Homo sapiens: one gene and its partners. The protein of the gene in region 1 interacts with the protein of each later gene in a pairwise test. Each region holds a gene or a part of one and is shown in the gene's direction. Other genes may lie near its edges. The genes, in order: PEX7, ACOX2, PHYH and AGPS.

Region 1 (4,864 bases):
TACTTTGTTGAAACAGATGTAAAGAGATGGTTAATTCTTTCTTTTTCCTAACATGATAACATACATGACTGTTCACAGATGTTTGGGATATAGAAAGTTTTCTACTCTGTGAACAGCAGAGGATGAGGTAAATTTTTAATGATGGTCTCAGTAAATTTATCTGGGTTATAAGATGACTTAGGTTGGTTTCCTGGCTTTTATATTTAGGCAGGTTCTGCTAAATGACTGTGGAAAACATCTTATTAAGTGACATCTCCCAATTTCATCCTTTTGTTTTTTTACGTTAAGGATAAAAAAGTACCTTATTGATTATTTTAATAAGGTAATTATGTTATTCCTACTATTTAAAAAATTCTAAATTTTTTTTTCTTTTTTTTTGAGATGGAGTCTTGCCCTGTCACCCAGACACGATCTCAGCTCACTGCAACCTCTGCCTTCTGGGTTCAAGCTGTTCTCCTGCCTCAGCCTACTGAGTAGCTGGGACTACAGGTGTGCACCACCATGCCCGGCTAATTTTTTTGTATTTTTAGTGGAGACAGGGTTTCACAGTGTTGGCCAGGCTGGTCTTGAACTCCTGACCTCAAGTGATCTGCCTGCCTTAGCCTTCCACAGTGCTGGGATTACAGGCTGAGTCACTGTGCCTGGCCAAAAATTCTAAATTTTTAGTTAAGTTAATATTTTAAGTTTCTCTGGCTGCAATGCAACATAGGAGACACAGTGCTCTGTTTTATTTTTTAATAAATTTGTTTAATTGGACAAGTTTTAGCAGTTGAAAAATATGCTCTATGTATATTTTAGAGTGATTATGAGAATGAAATAAGGTAATGTAGTGAAAGTACTTTGCAAACTAAGTGCTGGTCAAATGTAGTTATATATGTGTATTTAACTATTAAAGTGCGATAAGACAAACACTGAAGAAATGTAATTGCAAAGGTCAACTTATTAAGTACATTATTACTCATCTAGAAGACGTTACTTGTCTTTAAACTTGCTTTTTACCCTTGATATAATTTTCCATTAGCTGTAATATACAAATAACGTAAAAATAACTTAAGGGTGTTTTTATTTAACATTTAAATGTTTATTTTGATAACGTGATTATAGCAATCATATATTTGTAAAATTGGTAAATTATATAATTATATATTTGTACTCTTATATACTTAAATCCCTTATATTTGTAAGAATCATTTTTGTTTATTACTTTGTTTGCTTTTGCTTTTTTTGAGCCAGAGTCTCTCTCTGTCGCCGGGGCTGGAGTGCAGTGGCATGATCTCGGCTCACTGCAACCTCCACCTTCTGGGTTAAAGCAATTCACCTGCTTCAGCTTCCCCAGAAGCTGAGATTATAGGCATATGTGCCACCATGCCCATCTAACTTTTGTATTTTTAGTACAGGCGGGGTTTCACCATGTTGGCCAGGCTGGTCTCGAGCTCCTGACCTGAGGTGATCTGCCCTCCTGAGCCTCCCAAGGTGCTGGGATTACAGGTGTGAGCTGCTGCATCTGGCCTGTAAGAATCATTTTTGGATAGCCAATATGAAATTGTATTTAATTTTTCCAGAATAGCAACATTTTGGGAATATTTTATTCTAAATAAGTTCTAAAAAGCTTGAGGGATAATTTTCTTTGGAGAATGTAAAAATATTTTTCCTGAAGATGGATACTTATAAGGCCAGAAGATTTTTGCCTCAAATTATAGCATATATGCTTTGAAAAAGCATAATTTTAAGTGACAGCTCTGACTCAACTTAAATTTATTATAATGTTTATGGAATGATCATAGAAAGCAGTGTTATAATCACAGCTGACTTCAAAAAGGGTTTTTTTTTTCTTTTTTTTTTTGTAGTTTTCACCATTTCATGCTTCTGTGCTGGCCTCTTGCTCGTATGATTTTACTGTAAGGTACAGTGGTTTTTAATACATTTCATTGTGAAATACCAGGTAACATTTGCATCTTTGCAACTTTTATAAGAGATAATATGATTACTCTTACTAACATGAAAATAATCTGAGATGGGTACATTTAAATATTTACTAGGATTAATATTATATTTTTCCTGTTTTCGTGATCCAGTCACATATATGAGTAAATTTTTTCTCTTCAAATATTAGCCTGGCTATTCTGTTTAAAAGCCATCTTTTCTAATAGATGTTCCTATGGTAACACTTTCCTACACTATAGATGGCATAGCCAATATATTCTAAATTTAGATATAGAAATTTGGAAATTGCATTTCTTCAGGTCTAATTATATGAGTCGTAAGGCTAAGATTGCTTAGATGAAAAAACAATGAACATGAGTGTATGATTTTTTGTGAATGTAGATATATGAACATGTATGTGTATATATGTGCATGGATATCTAGATAAGAGTGTGTGTGGGTGTGGGTCTCTATTTATACTTCCAGTTACAGTTCCATACCACAGAGGATTTATTTTCCCTTTCCAAATTTGTAACTCTTGACTTCCATTTTATTCACAATATATTTTCTTATGTGTTAAACCCTGTAATGCTTAGAAAGTAGTTCAGAATTGCAAAGCCATACCTTTGAAAAAAACAATCTTACTAATTAGAGCTCAGCACTTGCTTAGAGTTTTTTTTGTCTTTAGTTTGAATACTATATTCAGAAGTTACTTAGGTTAATTCTCCTCTTCTCTGTTAGAGTGTGGTTATGTTATTCACTTGAAACATGGTTTGATTCCTTTGTTTCTGTTTGTATTCAATTTTAGGGTTTTCCTCCCATCCTTGTTGATTTTGTCTAGGCAAAACATTGACATGGTTTCAAAAGTCAAGATGTACATAAAGATATATTCAGAAAGGTTTCCAGGATTTTCACTAAAATATATCCTGGAAATCATTCTGTATCAAAGAGATCATTCTCATTCTGCATAATACACCATTGTGTGGATGTGCTATAGTTTATTTGGCTACCCTCCTATCTATGGACATTTAGCTTGTTTTCAATGTTTTGTAAATAAACAGTGCCACAGTGAATGATAGCTTTGTGTTACTAGAGAATTAATGTCTGGTATTCCTAGAAGTGGGATTGCTGAGTTAAAAGGTAAACATATGTAGTTTTGTTAGATATTACCAAATTCCCATCCATAAGGAATATGCCAATTTTGATACTCAGTAGCAATGTTTGAGAGTACCTGTTTCTCTGCCTTCTAAAGATCATTGATTCATTAAGGTTTTCCAGATGTATGATCTTATCACCTGCAAATAAAGGTGGTTCTACACCTTCATTTCCAATTCTGATGCCTCTAATTGATTTTTCTTAAAATTCCCTCCACAAATACCACTAATACAGTGCTAAATAGTTTATAGAGAATGTCTGATTCCTGATATGAGTACAAACGCCTTTAGTGTTTCTCTATTAAAAATAAGATTCTGACTTTAATGCAAATTATATATGTTTACTTGTTTGTCATACTAAGAAAGTATGCATGAATTCCTATTTTCTTGAGTTTTTTTAATTAGGAATGGGTCTTAAGTTTTGTTGAAGGCTTTTTTTCCCAGCATTTATGGAGATAATCATGATTTTTCTTCTTAGAGATATGGCTATGATGTATTATATTAATGGATTGAACCAACCTTGCATTCCTGGAGTAAGTCTCTCACGTTCTTTGTGTATCATTTTCTCACCATGGTGTTGAATTGTGTTTGCTAATATTTTATTTAAAGCTTTTGCGTCAATATTCAAAGGTGATATTAGTTGCAGTTTTCTTTCTTTTCTCGTTTTGTTTAATGTGTCTGTGTTTTACTTGCTTCATAAAAAGAATTAAGAAATTTTCCTTTGTTTCCAAAGCTCTGGAACAACTTGTACAGCATTGAGGCTATTTGGTCTTTGAATCCTTTGTAGGATTGCTCTGCAAAACTAGTGGAGCATGGTGCTTTTTGTGGAGTACTTTCTTGATAACTTCATTTCTTTCATGGAAGTGAGTCTGTTTAAACTTTGTATCTCTAACGGGATCAAGTTTGGAAATTGTCCCTTGCTTTTAGGTTTTCAAATTTATTCGTAGAGGTGTCTGTAAAGTGGGTGGACACAGTGGCTCATGCCTGTATTCCCAGCACTTTGGGAGGCCAAGGTGGGCAGATCACCTGAGGTTAAGGGTTCAAGACCAGCCTGGCCAACATGGTGAAACCCTGTCTCTACTAAAAATAGAAAAATTAGCCACGCATGATGGCAGGTGCCTGTAATCCCAGCTACTTGGGAGGCTGAGGTGGAATTGCTTGAACCCAGAAGGCAGAGATTGCAGTGAGCTAAAATCATACCACTGCACTCCAGCCTGGGTGACAGAGTGAGACTTTGCCTCAAAAAAAAAAAAAAAAAAAAGTCTATAAAGGAATGTTGTAGGATTTCTTCTCTTTCATTGGTTGTTTTACTCTTGTTATTTCTGATTTTGTATCTTTAATAAGTTCTTTGAATATCTAGTGGTATGTTTATTTTGTTATTTTTCTTCAGCAGGCAGAATTTTAATTTATCAATTAGAACTACTTTTTTCAGCTGGGTGCAGTAGCTCATGCGTGTAATCCCAGCACTTTGGGAGGCTGAGGCGGGTGGATCACCTGAGGTCAGGAGTTCAAGACCAGCCTGACCAACATGGTGAAACCCCGTCTCTACTAAAAATACAAAATTAGCTGGGCGTGGTGGCACATGCCTGTAATCCCTGCTACTGGGGAGGCTGAGGCAGGAGAATTGCTTGAACCCAGGTGGCAGAAGTTGCAGTGAGCCGAGATCGTGCCATTGCACTCCAGCCTGGGCAACAAGAGCAAAACTCTGTCTCAAAAAAGAAAAAAAAAGAACTTTTTTTTTTTATTAATCACTGCTTTTATTTTTATTATTTCCTTTTTGGTACTTT
Region 2 (4,864 bases), on another chromosome or scaffold:
AGACAAGACCAGCCTGAGCAAGATGGTGAGACCCCCGTCTCCACAAAAAAAAAAAAAAATGAAAAATTAGTCAGGTGTGGTAGCACACACCTGTAGTCCCAACTACTACTTTGGAGGCTGAGGTGGGAGGATTCCTTGAGCCCAGGAGTGCAAGGATGCAGTGAGCTGTGATTGTGCCACTGCACTCCAGTCCAGCCTGAGCAGCAGAGTGAGACGCTGTCTCAAAAAAGAAAAACAAACAAATTTATTGCTCACAGTTCTGGAGGCTGGGAAGTCCAAGGTCAAGGCACTAGTGCATTTGGTGTCAGGTGAGGGCCTGCTTCCTGAACGGCTTTTTGCTGTGTCCTCAAATGGTAGAAGCAGCCTCTTTCTTTCTTTTTTTTTTTTTTCCTGAGACAGTCTCACTCTGTCACCCAGGCTGGAGTGCAGTGGTACAATCTTGGCTCACTGCAACCTCCGCCTCCCAGGTTCAAGAGATTCTCCTGCCTCAGCCTCCTGTGTAGCTGGGACTACAAGTGCACGCCACCACGCCCAGCTAATTTTTGTATTTTTAGTAGAGACGGGGTTTCACTATGTTGGCCAGGATGGCCTCGATCTCCTGACCTCGTGATCCACCTGCCTTGGCCTCCCAAAGTGCTGGGATTGCAGGTGTGAGCCACCACACCCAGCCAGAAGCAGCCTCTTTCATGAGGGCACTGATCCCATTCATGAGGCCTCCACCCTCATGACTTAATTACCTCCTGAAGGCCCCAACTCCTACTACCATCATAATACCTCCTAATCCTAGTCCTAATCATCAATACCTCCTAATCCTAGCCCTAACCCTTGAGGGTTAGGATTTCTACATAAGAATTTTAGGTGGACACATTCAGACCCTGTCACCCTCCTACAACCCAGTAAGTGGGCTTACAGTGGACACCCATCCTCATAAGCTAGCTTTCTAAAACCCAGGCCAGCAAAATCCGTAACTCCTGGAGGTTTGTGGGCCCAATCCAGGCAGCACCCTCTTCCCAATCCTGGAGACACTGGCCAGGCCAGGTTTTCCTTCACTCTTATGCCCCTACAGCTACATTGCCTAATTGTGTGCCTCTGGGTGAGTCACATAAGCTGAGTACCCGCCTTCTCATTCATAAAGTTGTGAGCAGAGGAAACACTTCTTACCTCAGAGCTGAGCTGGGCATGAGTAGATGCTCAGTAAGTGGTGCACAGGGTTGGTCCCTATGGTGGAGGCCCCCTAACACCGCCCAACCCCCCTCCATGTTCTCACAGCTCCACGCACTGAGCACGGGCATGAAGGCCATGATGTCAGAATTCTGCACCCAGGGAGCTGAGATGTGCCGCAGGGCCTGTGGCGGACATGGCTACTCAAAGCTGAGTGGCCTGCCATCACTGGTCACCAAATTGTCGGCCTCCTGTACCTACGAGGGTGAGAACACAGTGCTCTACCTGCAGGTGGCCAGGTAAGGTCCAGGCTGACCCAGGCCTTTGCCCAAGCCCTTGGGGACCCACCAAGCTTCTGTTGGGTGGAGGGTTCCGTCTGAGGCCCATAAAAAGAGCAGGCTTTGCGAAGTGCTATTTGGGAGCTGTCCAATTCCCCAGTATGACTAACCTATCCACTTCTAGGCCACCATCCTCTCTCACCTCCACCACAGCCTCAGACCCCTCCCTGGTCTCTTGCTTCTATCCTGTCCTGCTTCTCCACAGGCAGCCGGAGGGATCTGTTCAGAGCCTAGGGAGGATCACATCTTTCTCTGGTTTGAAATTCTTCAACGGCTTCCCAGTGCTCATAGGAAAATGACATATTCTATGCTGTGGCCTGCAAGGTCCATGTGACCTGACCCCTGCCTCCCCGTCCATCCTGCTCTCACCACCTCCTGCCTCTGCTCACTTCTTCTTCTTCTTTTTTTTTTTGAGATGGAGTCTCACTGTCACCCAGGCTGGAGTGCAGTGGTGCAATCTCGGCTCACTGCAACCTCTGCCCGCCGGGTTCAAGCAATTCTCCTGCCTTAGCCTCCGCAGTAGCTGGGATTACACACCACCATGCCCATCTAATTTTTGTATTTTTAGTAGAGATGGGGTTTCACCATGTTGGCCAGGCTGCTCTCCAACTCCTGACCTCAGGTGATCCACCTGCCTTAGCCTCCCAAAGTGCTGGGATTACAGGCACAAGCCACCGCACCCAGCCACCTCTGCTCACTTCTGCCGGCCACACACTTCTTTCTGTCCAGGAGGCCTTTGCATTTGATCCCCTCCCACCCAACATGGCCTTGTTTCCTTTGGAGCAGTTTCACAATCTATCATTGTCTCATTTTTTTGTTCACCTTTTTAGCTCTACTCTCCAACTAGATTAGGAGCTCCCTGAGGGCAGGGACTACCCCTACCTTGCTCGCTTTAGCATCGCCTAAGCTTGGTGCAGAGCCTGCACACAGAGGCTCCAAGCAATGGCCAAGTCAGCTTCCTCCACACAGGCGATTTCTTTTCATCCCTCTTAGGTCTGTGGGCCCTGGAGGCCGACAGAGCCTCATCCTCACCTATTCTCAGGTGAACAAACAGGGCAAATGCTTCCCTATGCAAGGAGAAAGAAGTTCACTGGCAAATATGAAAAACAACATTTATTATATTTTTAAAAATATATAACATCCCTTGGTTTTTTTCCAAATTAGAAAAGGAGTACAATAGCACATATTATGTACTCTGCACTGTGCCAAGCACTCTACAAATATCATCTCATTCCATTTCACAAACCCTCAATCAGATGAGAACTGTCCTCCCCACCTAGAGCTAGAGAAACAGAGACTTGGGAGGTGAAGCTTCTTTCATCACACAGGTCTCGGCGAGGCTGTATGGGAATCCAGGGCTGTCTAAGCCCAGAACCTGTAACCACTGGATTATCCTAAAGCAGCAGTTGAGAGTCACCTATAATCCTCCTACTCCTGTTAGCATTCTTGCCTCTATCCTTCTTTTTTCAGCTAAGAAAATTTAATTTCCACCCAGTCACTGTACAAGTCATTATAAATCCCAAAATCACAGTGTTCTGATGGAAAATTCTGTTTGCTCAGATCACAGAAGGGTTTATGTTCAGGATCAGAGAGTGTCTGGCCCAGCTCCACAGGTCCTGGGATATGCCTGACTGAGGGCCTCGAGGCAGGACGGCCCGAGGGGGAACCCTCAGGAGGGAGGCCAGGCAGAGGCCTGGTGACCTGGCTCTCCCACGGGAAGGCTGGAACCTAGCATGAGCTTGCCTGTCTCTGGGAGTGAGGGGTGCTGGGCTGTCTCACAGAGTCTCTGCCCTCTCACCTGCCTCCTCTTCCAACCCCCAGGTTCCTGGTGAAGAGCTACCTGCAGACTCAGATGTCCCCTGGCTCCACGCCACAGAGATCTCTCTCTCCATCTGTCGCATATCTCACCGCACCTGACCTGGCCAGGTGTCCAGCCCAGAGGGCAGCCGACTTCCTCTGCCCGGAGCTCTACACCACGGCCTGGGCACATGTGGCAGTAAGGTAAGCCAGTGCTGAGAAATCAGCCATCCCACCTGGGCACAGGCTCCATGCCACACTAGGGCCTTTGGATTGGTTGGGTGGACATTCGTGGATTCAGTTCTAAAAACCACCCCATGCCTAGCCTCCCCGGTCCTCTCAGTTCCTGCCACCATGGGCAGAGAGAGGGGATGTCCCCCCCATCAGCCATGGACCCCCGTCACTTCCCCATCCTGGTCACAGTAGTAGAAGGACATCACACCTCTGGCCAGTGAGATATTTTTAAAATCTCTAGGGTCCTATGGTGATTTGCAATACAACGAATGTACCCATATGTAAATACTCCAAATGTATTGATATGCAAATACCAATAAATAAAGCAATACTCACTCGTACGTTTGAAATATCCCATAATCTAAAAATAATTTTTGAAAATATGACTACACCACGGGATAGAATTCATTTATTTCCAGGGTCTAGTAGGCTCCAGGGAACATGGACAAAACCAAGGACTCATCCATTCTGTCATTCAACAAATATTGTTCAGTACCTACTATGTGTTAGGAATGAACAAATGTGCCAGGGGCTGGGAATAGAGAGGTCCTGACCAAACACACATACCACCATGGAAAAGATGGAGGTTTAACTACCTAAAAAGAAAACGTTCTGAATGCTGCCCCCAAATTAAAACACCGAAAACAGGCTGGGCATGGTGGCTGACACCAGTAATTCCAGCACTTTGGGAGGTCGAGGTGGGCGGATTGCTTGAGCTCAGGAGTTTGAGACCAGCTTCGGCAACATGGTGAAACCCCACCTCTACCAAAAATACAAAAAATTTTAATAAAAAAATAAAAAGGAAACACCAAAAACAAACTGGAAAAACATATTTTCAGTATATAATAAGAGGTCTTATATCCCAACCTGTGGTCCCAGGGATGGTTAATAGTTATTTCAAGATCACAAGCAACTTGGAACATTCATTTATTTATTCCAAAAATATTTATTAACTGCCTATAATATGGCAGGCACTGTTCTAGGCATTAGGGACCTATCAGTAAATAGGCCTGATAAACACCCCAAACTCATAGAGCTAACATTTCAATTGGGAGATTTGAGGAGGGGAAGATAAGGCTGCTCGAGGTGATTAAAGTGTCATGGTATTTCTCCTTGCTTGAAACTCAGTGTGACATCTGCTTATCTATTCCCTGACAAAGCAAAAAACATATTGCTTAATAAACAGTTTGCTTTACACACAAATTCTAAGGGTCATGGATGGATGGGCAGGGAATAGAAAATAAGAGGGGATTAAAGGTTATTTAATGACTAATTTAGTGGTTTGCAGGACAAAGGTTGGTTTTCTCTTTTTGTTTTTAGGTCCCTTGGGTAGA
Region 3 (4,864 bases), on another chromosome or scaffold:
CAAGGTTGCAGTGAGCTGAGATCACGCCACTGAACTCCAGCCTGGGTGATAGAGCCAGACTCCATCTCAAAAAACAAAACAAAACAAAACAAATTAGCTTGTATTTGGTTATATGGACATATTAGCTAGCATCTTTGGTTTATCTTAAATCACCTTTAAAGGGGAAGATCTTGACCTTCCTAAATATTCTCATACAACCACAATTCCGATCTTAAGGAATAGGTTGGGTGATTTGAGTTTATGGGTATGCTGTACATTTATTTGGATTTTGTTACTTTACCTTCTTGGAATGCATCAACTGGACAGTTAAAAATATACAATTTATTGAATTTGTTTCCCATCTGAAAAATCATATGTATTCATTACAGAAACATCAGAGAAATAGAAGGAATTTTAAAAAATCATCCCTAATTCCATTTCTAAAGGCAATCACTGTTAAAAATTGCTTTGGTGTATTTCTTTGCAGGCTTTTCTTTTTTTCATATAGTGTCTTGGTTTTACATAATTGTAATAATATTTTATTATAATAAGCATTGTCCATACTATTTTTTATTTTATTATATTTTATTATATTTTATTTTATTTTGAGACCGAGTCTGGCTCTGTCGCCCAGGCTGGAGTGCAGTGGTGCCATCTTGCTTCACTGCAAGCTCCGCCTCCCGGGTTCACGCCATTCTCCTGCCTCAGCCTCTCCAGTAGCTGGACTACAGGCGCCAGACACCATGCCGGGCTAATTTTTTGCATTTTTAGTAGAGGCGGGTTTCACCGTGTTAGCCAGGATGGTCCCGATCTGACCTCGTGATCCGCCCACCTCAGCCTCCCAAAGCTAGGATTACAGGCATGAGCCACTGTGCCCGCCATCCATACTATTATATGGCCTTAATTTTTAATGTCTGAGTCATATTCCACTGAGTGAACATAGTGTCACTAGTTAATTTTTCTTCCACTAATGCACTTTTTTTTTTTTTTTTTTTTCTGAGATGGAGCCTTGCTCTGTCACCCAGGCTGGAGTGCACTGGTGCAATCCTGGCTCACTGCAATCTCCACCCCCACAGGTTCTAGCGATTCTCCTGCCTCATCCTCTTGAGTAGCTGGGATTACAGGCACGCTAATTTTTGTATTTTTAGTAGAGATGGGGTTTCATCATGTGAGTCAGGCTGGTCTCGAACTCCCGACCTCAGGTGATCCACCTGCCTCAGCCTCCCAAAAAGCTGGGATTACAGGCATGAGCCACTGTGCCCGGCCCACTAATGCACTTGTTTTGGTGACATAAAGCGTAAGTTTTCAGATTATTTCCTTGGTCTTAGAAATGCTGAATTGAAGAGCATGAACGTTTCCTAGGTTCTTGTTTTTGTCTTTGTTTTTGTTTTTTGAGACGGAGTCTGGCTCTGTCGCCCAGGCTGGAGTGCAGTGCCATGATCAGAGCTCACTGCAACCTCCGCCTCCCAAGTTCAAGCGATTTTCCTGCCTCAACCTCCCGGGTAGCTGGGATTACAGGTGCCCACTACCATGCCTGGCTAAACTTTGTGTTTTCAGTAAACATGGGGTTTCACCATGTTGGTCAGGTTCGTCTCAGACTCCTGACCTCAGGCGATCCACCTGCCTCGGCCTCCCAAAGTGCTGGGATTATAGGCATGAGCCCCCACGCCTAGCCTCAGGTTCTTGATACATATTTTTAGGATGTAATTTAAATTTTTTTTTTTTTTTTGAGACAGGGTCTCACTCTGTCGCCCATGCTGGAGTGGAGTGGCACAACCAGTATTTTTTGTAGAGACAGGGTTTCATCATGTTGCCTGGGCTAGTCTCAAACTCCTGACCTCAAGTGATCCACTTGCCTCGGCCCGCTAAAGTGCTAGTATTAGAGGTGTGAGCCATTGTGCCTAGCCTGTAATTTAAAAATGTAACTTATTTTGGGATTCTTTTTCTCCTTTAGGTATACTCTGGATAATAACGTTCTAACCCTGGAACAGAGAAAATTTTATGAAGAAAATGGGTTTCTAGTAATCAAAAATCTTGTACCTGATGCCGATATTCAACGCTTTCGGTACAGTAACACTATTTGTTATTTTACAATAGTATGTATTGTGTGCATGTAATGAGAATACAAGGTGGATTCGCTCCTGGCTTTACAGATGTTTTTTAATGATTTGGTTTGTTGGGAAGTGTTTAGAAGCATGGGCTCTGGTGCCAGACTGGCTTTTTATTTTTTATAGAGAAAGGTTCTCACTCTGTTGTGTAGGCTGAGTGCAGTGGTGCGATCATAGCTTACTGCGGCCTCAAGTTCCTGGGCTCAAGCAATCCTCTTGCCTCAGCCTCCTGAGTAGCTGGGACCACAGTTGTGCACCACCATACCCAGCTAATTTTTTATTTCTTTGTTTTTAGAGACAGGGAGTCTCACTATGTTGCCCAGGCTGGTCTTGAACTCCTGGCCTCACCCTCCTGAGTTGCTGGGATTACAGTCGGGAGCCACCATGCCTGGGCTTCAGTCTCAGCTCCACCACTTAATATCATGTGTCCTGGGGCAATTTACTTCACATCCCATGCCTCTGTTTCCTCATCTGTAAAATGGGGATAATAATAGCACTTATGTCCTAGTGTTGTTATTAGGACTAAATACGGTGAAATATATGGAAACCACTTTGAAGAGAGCTGGGCACATGGTAAGTGTTACAGAAATGTTTGCTGTTATTATTATTACAATGTAACCAAATTATAAAAAGACTTCCCTACTGGTATGCTAAACTAGGGAATAATTTAATTCTGGGAATGGATTCTAGCCAGACAGTTTCTCCTCCCTTTCATTGGAATTATTCTACCTCAAGCTGGAGGCCAACTTAGTGCAGAGAAACCACCCCTCAAGTCTGCAACCCTTTCCACAGAGGAGGGCAGGGCAGGTGCTTGGAGCCAGCGGTAACGACATCATTTGCAAATTAAATTTTCTAGGAATGAGTTTGAAAAAATCTGCAGAAAGGAGGTGAAACCATTAGGATTAACAGTAATGAGAGATGTGACCATTTCGAAATCCGAATATGCTCCAAGTGAGAAGATGATCACGAAGGTCCAGGATTTCCAGGAAGATAAGGAGCTCTTCAGATACTGCACTCTCCCCGAGGTCAGAGACCACCCTTGCTTTGCGTCGGCTTAATTGCCAGTGTGTATGTCTGCCTGTAAAACCCGCTGATTTGGCCGGGCGCAGTGGCTCACTCCTGTAATCCGAGCACTGTGGGAGGCTGAGGCAGGTGGATCGCTTGATCCCAGGAACCACTGCTCTTAGAGCTGGATATGGAAAGGAGTTGAATTGAGTAAAATCAGTGGGTTTTATTTTGTTTTCTTTTCTGGAGACAGAGTCTCGCTCTGTTGCCCACGCTGGAGTGCAGTGGTGCGATCTCGGCTCACTGCAACCTCTTCCTCCCAGGTTCAAGTGATTATCCTGCCCCAGCCTCCCAAGTAGCTAGGTTTACAGGTGCCTGCCACCACACCTGGCTAATTTTTGTATTTTTAGTAGAGAAAGGGTTTCACCATATTGCTCAGGCTGGTCTCGAACTTCTGACCTCGTGATCCACCCACCTCGGCCTCCCAAAGTGCTGGGATTACAGGCATGAGTCACTGCGCCTGGCCAGTGTCCTACATTTCTGAAGAATGGGACCAGTATCTGGTGGTCTATGCCATGATTTTAGGAGGTATAAATTATTTTAATAGATATTTATTTTTAAATGTATTGGAAAAAAACTCAACAGTCTACCAAACTCATGATTTCAAAAATGTTGTTAATTAGGACAAGATTAAATAAAAAGGCCAGGCGAAGTGGCACTTTGGAAGGCTGAAACAGGAGAATCACTTGAGGCCAGGTGTTCAAGACCAGTCTGGCAACATAGTGAGACCATTGTCTATATTGGAAAAAAAGAAAAAAACAAAGATTGAATAAGAGAAGTGAGCTAACTGCCGGGCGCGGTGGCTCATGCCTGTAATCCCAGCACTTTGGGAGGCCGAGGTGGGCAGATCACGAGGTCAGAAGTTTGAGACCAGCCTGAGACACATGGTGAAACCCAGTCTCTACTAAAAATACAAAAATTAGCTGGGCATGGTGGCGGGCGCCTGTAATCCCAACTACTCAGTAGGCTGAGGCAGGAGAATCGCTTAAACCCGGGAGGCAGAGGTTGCAGTGAGCCGAGATCATGTCATTGCACCTAGCCTGGGCAACAGAGCGAGACTCCATCTCAAAAAAAACAAAAACAAAAACAAAAAACAAAAAACAAGTGAGCTAACTAAGGGTAGGGAAATCATTGGCTAAATAACAGTACAAGTTATGTCAGAAGTTGTGAGGATGGCTCTTGAATGGCTGGCATTTAGAAAATCCCAGCCTAGATGAATACAAAAAAATACCAGGCTTTATAAAAAGCAAGTGTGTGCCTGACTGCTAGGCTTTTAATAACCTTTCCAGGGTTTCATACTCAAATTGCCAATATTCCTTATACACAAGAGATCAAAAAGTGAGGAAGCAGTAGAAGGTGGCTTATTTTTTGGAGTCTTTTTTTTGCAGAATCAAAATTTGAATATCATGGGTTGTTTTATTTTCTTCTTCTTCTTCTTTTTTTTTTTTTTTTTTGAGACAGAGTCTCACTCTTGTTGCCCAGGCTGGACTGCAGTGGTATGATCTCAGCTCACTGCAACCTCTGCCTCCTGGGTTCAAGTGATTCTCCTGCCTCAGCTTCCCAAGTAGCTGGGATTACCGACGTGTGCCACCATGCCCGGCGAATTTTTGTATTTTTAGTAGAGATATGGTTTTGCCATGTTGGCCAAGCTGGTTTTGAACTCCTGACCTCAAGTGATCCGCCCGCCTCGGCCACCCAAAGTGCTAGGATTA
Region 4 (4,864 bases), on another chromosome or scaffold:
AGTAATCAAATATATCATGGACTATATTTTGGATACATTTGTTTCTTTGGTTTAAAATAAGTTTGTTTTCATTCTGTAGTTTGTTTTGTTTCTACATCTATGGATTGACAGATAGTATTCCTAAATCTCTCTCATTGTAGGTACATCATTTTACATTCAGCGGTTGTCATTTCAAATTTTAGTCAGGCAGCACAAAGCTGTCAATTATTCCAGAGGAAGCTGCTGCCAGCTGTTTTGTATTGTTGCTTCCTCTTGGGGAACAAAGACAGATTTGGTATCATTGATTGCTCAGCTAGCCTCTTTTTAAAAGAACGTTTCTGGGAATCAGATGTCTAGGGAAGGATTCCACTGAGGAGTGATACACGTGTACATTGTTTAAGAGCATAGTCTAGTGTGAGTAGGCCATTAAGGGGAAGGATATTCATGAAAGAATTTAGGCAACCTGTTATTTAGAAAGCCTTCACGTCTGTAAGGTGCTTGGCCTACTTTTTTTTTTAAATTAGTATACATGCATAAAACCTTGTATCATCAATATACAAATTATTCTGTTAGGGGACATGTTTTTGTTCTCCATGTTTCTGTTTCTATTGTGGTATGAGTTGTATTTGTATCACTGAGATAACCTATTGTTATATTCTAATTCATTGATAATATGTTTTGTAAGAAAAGCTGACATCCTTCATTGCAAGTGAAGAACAGGTTTACCATGAAATGAATGCCTTTATTCAACTTAGAGTCCTAATGTTTCTGATTTCACATTCTTGTTGCTGAAATGCAGAAGAAACAGCTACAGCAAGAGCAGAAGGAAAACTCTTAGACTTAATGTCTCCAATTGCAAGAATTGTTTCACTAAAGAAACAGTCATCATTCAACTACTGAATTTGAAAGCCTCAGCAGTTTCAATGACAAAAATCATTTTTGATTTTTTAAAATTAATCCCAATGGCATGATAAATTTTCATATAAAAAGTAAAGTTTCAATTTAGTTTTTAATAATGGTTTAATGCCTTTTTTGAATAACTGGTTTAACCTAATTTTTTTTAAATGTAATGTATTAATGCATATACCATAATCAAAAGTTTGAAATATCCTGTTTCTTAAATAATGAGAACATTAATCACATTTAGCAAGCATTTGTACATTCAAACCTGGATATTAAAGTGAAATGATTACTTTGAATCACTGTCTGCCAAGGTTCATGATTCACATTTTGAGATGGATTCTTTTCTTAATGCAATACCTAACTTTTGATAATTTTTTAAAACTAATATTTGATCAGATAATGTAAGTCAAAATGCAGACGATCCTTTAAAAGGATGCATTGTCTGTGTATGTAGCAACAGCTCCAAAGTATTTTTGGGCAGTTTGATACCTTTTATATCTGAAGTAGCCTTAACCAGAAAAATGGTAATTTAAAATTGACAAAATGATATTTTTAAGACTTCAAAATGATAAATAATTTTTAACTATTAAAATTGGCCTCAAACTAATAAATCTGTAATTAAATTAGAATTAAATATCAGTTTAACAACAAAATGAAATATTTATTTTTTAGAAGCTGCCTCTCTTCATTGGTCATTTATTTTTAATTATAAAATTTCCAACAGATCTTTGCTTTAAGCCCTTGATATTTGACCTAGTTGGACACTTGATGAGGAAGTTGCCTCTAGAATTATAAAAATCTCAGCTTTATAAAATGCATCTGTTCACGAAGGTAATTTCTTTAATTGGTGATCAAAATATAAAATTAAGGTACTAATGTCTCACTGGAAGTATATATATATATATATATATATGTATGCATGTGTGTGTGTGTATATATATATATATATATATGTATATGTTTCTGAGTAATTTTTAAAAAATAAAACAGGTTAATAAGAAGATCCATTCCTTTGCATGTGATTGTTATAACATTCTTTCCCAGGGAGTTCAATTTCAGCAACCTCAGAAATCCATACTTGATATTAGGAAACTGTAAATGTAACACCTGAAATTATTATGTTCACTATTCTACATGAACCTTATGGAAATTCATGATTTATGTCTTTGTTTTTCTTTTTCCAAGTATATGCAGGACTCCCCAACCTTGATTTTATAATGGTGACTGCATTTTGTAGGTGGAATCATTTCTACCGAAATCATTTTGAAACACAAGAATATTGATCAGTACTGTTTCACTCTGATTTAGTAAATCAGAAAGCCTCCCCCTACCCCCAGCCCCCACTTTCACATACCTTCTGGGAGGTGCCTCAGTATAGACTTGGTATCTGTGAAGGACTGAGTTCATGAATATGCACAGAAGCACTTAAACCATGCCTCTTATTTCTATAATATCTGAAAATGGCTTCATAAAAGTTAAGTCAGGAGAACACTGTTTACATGACACTTCTTAACTCATTTTTAATGTTTATTTTTAATTTCAAAAACTTGTTGCCTATTTGGTTTTCAGTACTGCATAACACTGACTTTCTTAAATTAGTCATAGTTGCAATAATTTACTTAAATTTGGTAATGTCACATTTGGGTTGGGGTTTCAGTGGGAATAGTAACTTGCCGCTAGTGAGAAATGGCATTGAATACTAAAGACTCAATATGAACAGGCTTTATAGACCCTTAGAGAAACTGTTGCCTTAATGTTTGGTGCAATTTCTAGTAGTGCATAAGTGAATTTAGTCTTATGATAAGTAACTTTGAGCTGTTTTTAGCTTAGTAAGAATTGTGGAAACCACATGTTTATTGTGCCCATCATTTTACACAAAGAAAAGAGGATTATATTATTTCTTCTAAGGAAGTAGGAGTTTTCTTCCTAAAAGTGCTTACATATTGTAGTACTATTACTTAAAAGTTATTTATGAAGTTGGGAGCCTTCTAGTTTGCCTGTGTTGATGTATTTTGAAAACAAAATTGCAATAAAGGATGAGCTTCCATCGGTGTGTATGGTATACCAGATACAGATGGTTGCAAGGAAACCTTTTCCCCCACTAGAATAGTCTATTAGTAACTGCTAAGTCCTAGCTTGCATTTTTGAAAATGCCTTTCTGCATGTTAGCACCCAGACTTTCCTTTGTCATATTCCTTTATAGCTACAACTTAACTGTAGCTTATCAGAGAAGCTCTGTAGTCCTACACTGAAGTGTGTTCCCTTGGCTGTTCATATGGGGCTGGGTTTGGTTGAACTTCCATTCTGTATAAATGCTAGAACACAGTTACTACAGATTGATTCACAAACTGCATGTGCTGGTGCTTGAGGCAGCCAAAATGGAATGCTGTGGAAAGCATATCTATATCTTAAAAAACACTCAGACAGGAGTTAAGGACAGCTTTAATAATTTTTTTGTTTACCACTTAATCTTTATCAACTTTGATTTTAGTTAGGGCTTAGCTCATGGTTGAAGAAAAGTGGAAAATAACAAGTGCCCATTTAGGTTTGAAGAATCCAGAATGTTTTACCTTTGACTTTATGAGTTATAGAAGCTTGGCTTTGCTCTAGGCTTCATGTTCCCAAATGAGCCATCTGTCAGTATATTCACTTAATTCTTACTAATTTCAGTTTCCTGTAAAGGAAACAACTTACATATTGATGCTTAAATCCAGAAAGTGTAAAAGGTTTTCTTAAACTGTTAAAATATAGTGTCTGATATAAAGGATGTAAGTTACTCAGCTTTCTGCTCCCTAAGCCAAACAGTGTTTGTCTTCAGTGTGAAATTTAACTGTAAAAACTACTTGTAATGTCAAGAGATTATAGATCATATTATTAATAAAATGGACCTGGGTCTAATATTTTTTTTCTTCAAAGGGAGTGTGAAGCTGTTTATTCTTTTATTTGCATATGAGTTTTTCTTTTAGTTTTAGTTTTTCATGTTCATATTTCCACTGATTTGAAAACACAAAATTTATTTTTATAATTTTGTTGCTTGTAGCATAATCAAGTGCAAAATCAAGTGCAACCTACTTGTGACTAAATCTCTTTGGATTTATAGCTGAGGATATTGTTAGCTAGGTTTTGTCAATCCCTAATCATTTTTTAAAATCAATGCTGTATTCCCAGGAGGCTTTGAGACTCCTATGAACCTGAAGCACTCCCTTTTGAACCTTGGAAGATCCTCAAAGAGTGAGCACTCTTGTGCTCTTCTAATCATAATTAATTCCTTAACAAATCAGAGTAAGGACCACTGACATATAGAACCCTCAAGCCAAAGAACCATCACAGAATTTAGTAACTTTAGTTCTGTGAACATGAAAAGATTTCTTTTTTGGTTTCCAAAGGAGATTATTTATTTTTCCACAAGGAAAAACATCTTGCAGAGACTCTGAATTCCAAATCTGAGTGAGAAAGAAAAGGAAAAAAATCTGTTTCATGGTGGATTTCTAAGCAACATATATACATGTTTTTAAGACAACCTTTTGTTGGCAGTGTTTTTCCTGAACACCATATGCACCCTAGGAAACATGTTTTTCCTTTAATCTTGTTCACATATCAGAAAAGGACATGAAATGCTCATACTGGCATACAAGTTTCTATAAGTAGTTATTTTTTGAGCTACTTATACTATATCCCCAAAAGCTCACAGTGCCTTGTTGGGATTTTTTTTTTCCATGAACTAGCCATTATTTTAAATGAGTGGGAGAGGGTAAGTCTTTAGACAGAGGTCATTCAGCAGTTCAAGACTATTCCTCTTCAAGAACATGTCAGGAATTAAGCAGTTATATGTGGAAACACTGGTAATTCTTTCCACAGTGTTGTTTTGGATAATCTGTTCTAGTATATTTAACTAATTGTATGGTGGACCTGTACTCTGATACACATCGAATCAGTCAATGGGATTTGTATGTGCTTTTCCTTCCTACATTTTCATTCCTAC

What was found.
Region 2: the proteins of PEX7 (region 1) and ACOX2 come close enough for resonance energy transfer, tested with the Homo sapiens proteins (one large-scale study listed by BioGRID).
Region 3: the proteins of PEX7 (region 1) and PHYH interact in a two-hybrid assay, tested with the Homo sapiens proteins (2 studies listed by BioGRID, with this or other methods).
Region 4: the proteins of PEX7 (region 1) and AGPS come close enough for resonance energy transfer, tested with the Homo sapiens proteins (one large-scale study listed by BioGRID).

Annotation. Positions count from the first base shown.
Region 1 is NC_000006.12:136,870,351-136,875,214, forward strand, and holds part of PEX7 (peroxisomal biogenesis factor 7), read left to right. Parts: intron 1-1,847; coding exon 1,848-1,903; intron 1,904-4,864. UniProt on the Homo sapiens protein: Receptor required for the peroxisomal import of proteins containing a C-terminal PTS2-type peroxisomal targeting signal. Specifically binds to cargo proteins containing a PTS2 peroxisomal targeting signal in the cytosol.
Region 2 is NC_000003.12:58,523,062-58,527,925, reverse strand, and holds part of ACOX2 (peroxisomal acyl-coenzyme A oxidase 2), read left to right. Parts: intron 1-1,269; coding exon 1,270-1,460; intron 1,461-3,320; coding exon 3,321-3,500; intron 3,501-4,864. UniProt on the Homo sapiens protein: Oxidizes the CoA esters of the bile acid intermediates di- and tri-hydroxycholestanoic acids. Capable of oxidizing short as well as long chain 2-methyl branched fatty acids.
Region 3 is NC_000010.11:13,292,676-13,297,539, reverse strand, and holds part of PHYH (phytanoyl-CoA dioxygenase, peroxisomal isoform a precursor), read left to right. Parts: intron 1-1,933; coding exon 1,934-2,044; intron 2,045-2,943; coding exon 2,944-3,112; intron 3,113-4,864. UniProt on the Homo sapiens protein: Catalyzes the 2-hydroxylation of not only racemic phytanoyl-CoA and the isomers of 3-methylhexadecanoyl-CoA, but also a variety of other mono-branched 3-methylacyl-CoA esters (with a chain length of at least seven carbon atoms) and straight-chain acyl-CoA esters (with a chain length longer than four carbon atoms).
Region 4 is NC_000002.12:177,538,260-177,543,123, forward strand, and holds part of AGPS (alkyldihydroxyacetonephosphate synthase, peroxisomal precursor), read left to right. Parts: 3' UTR 1-4,864. UniProt on the Homo sapiens protein: Catalyzes the exchange of the acyl chain in acyl-dihydroxyacetonephosphate (acyl-DHAP) for a long chain fatty alcohol, yielding the first ether linked intermediate, i.e. alkyl-dihydroxyacetonephosphate (alkyl-DHAP), in the pathway of ether lipid biosynthesis.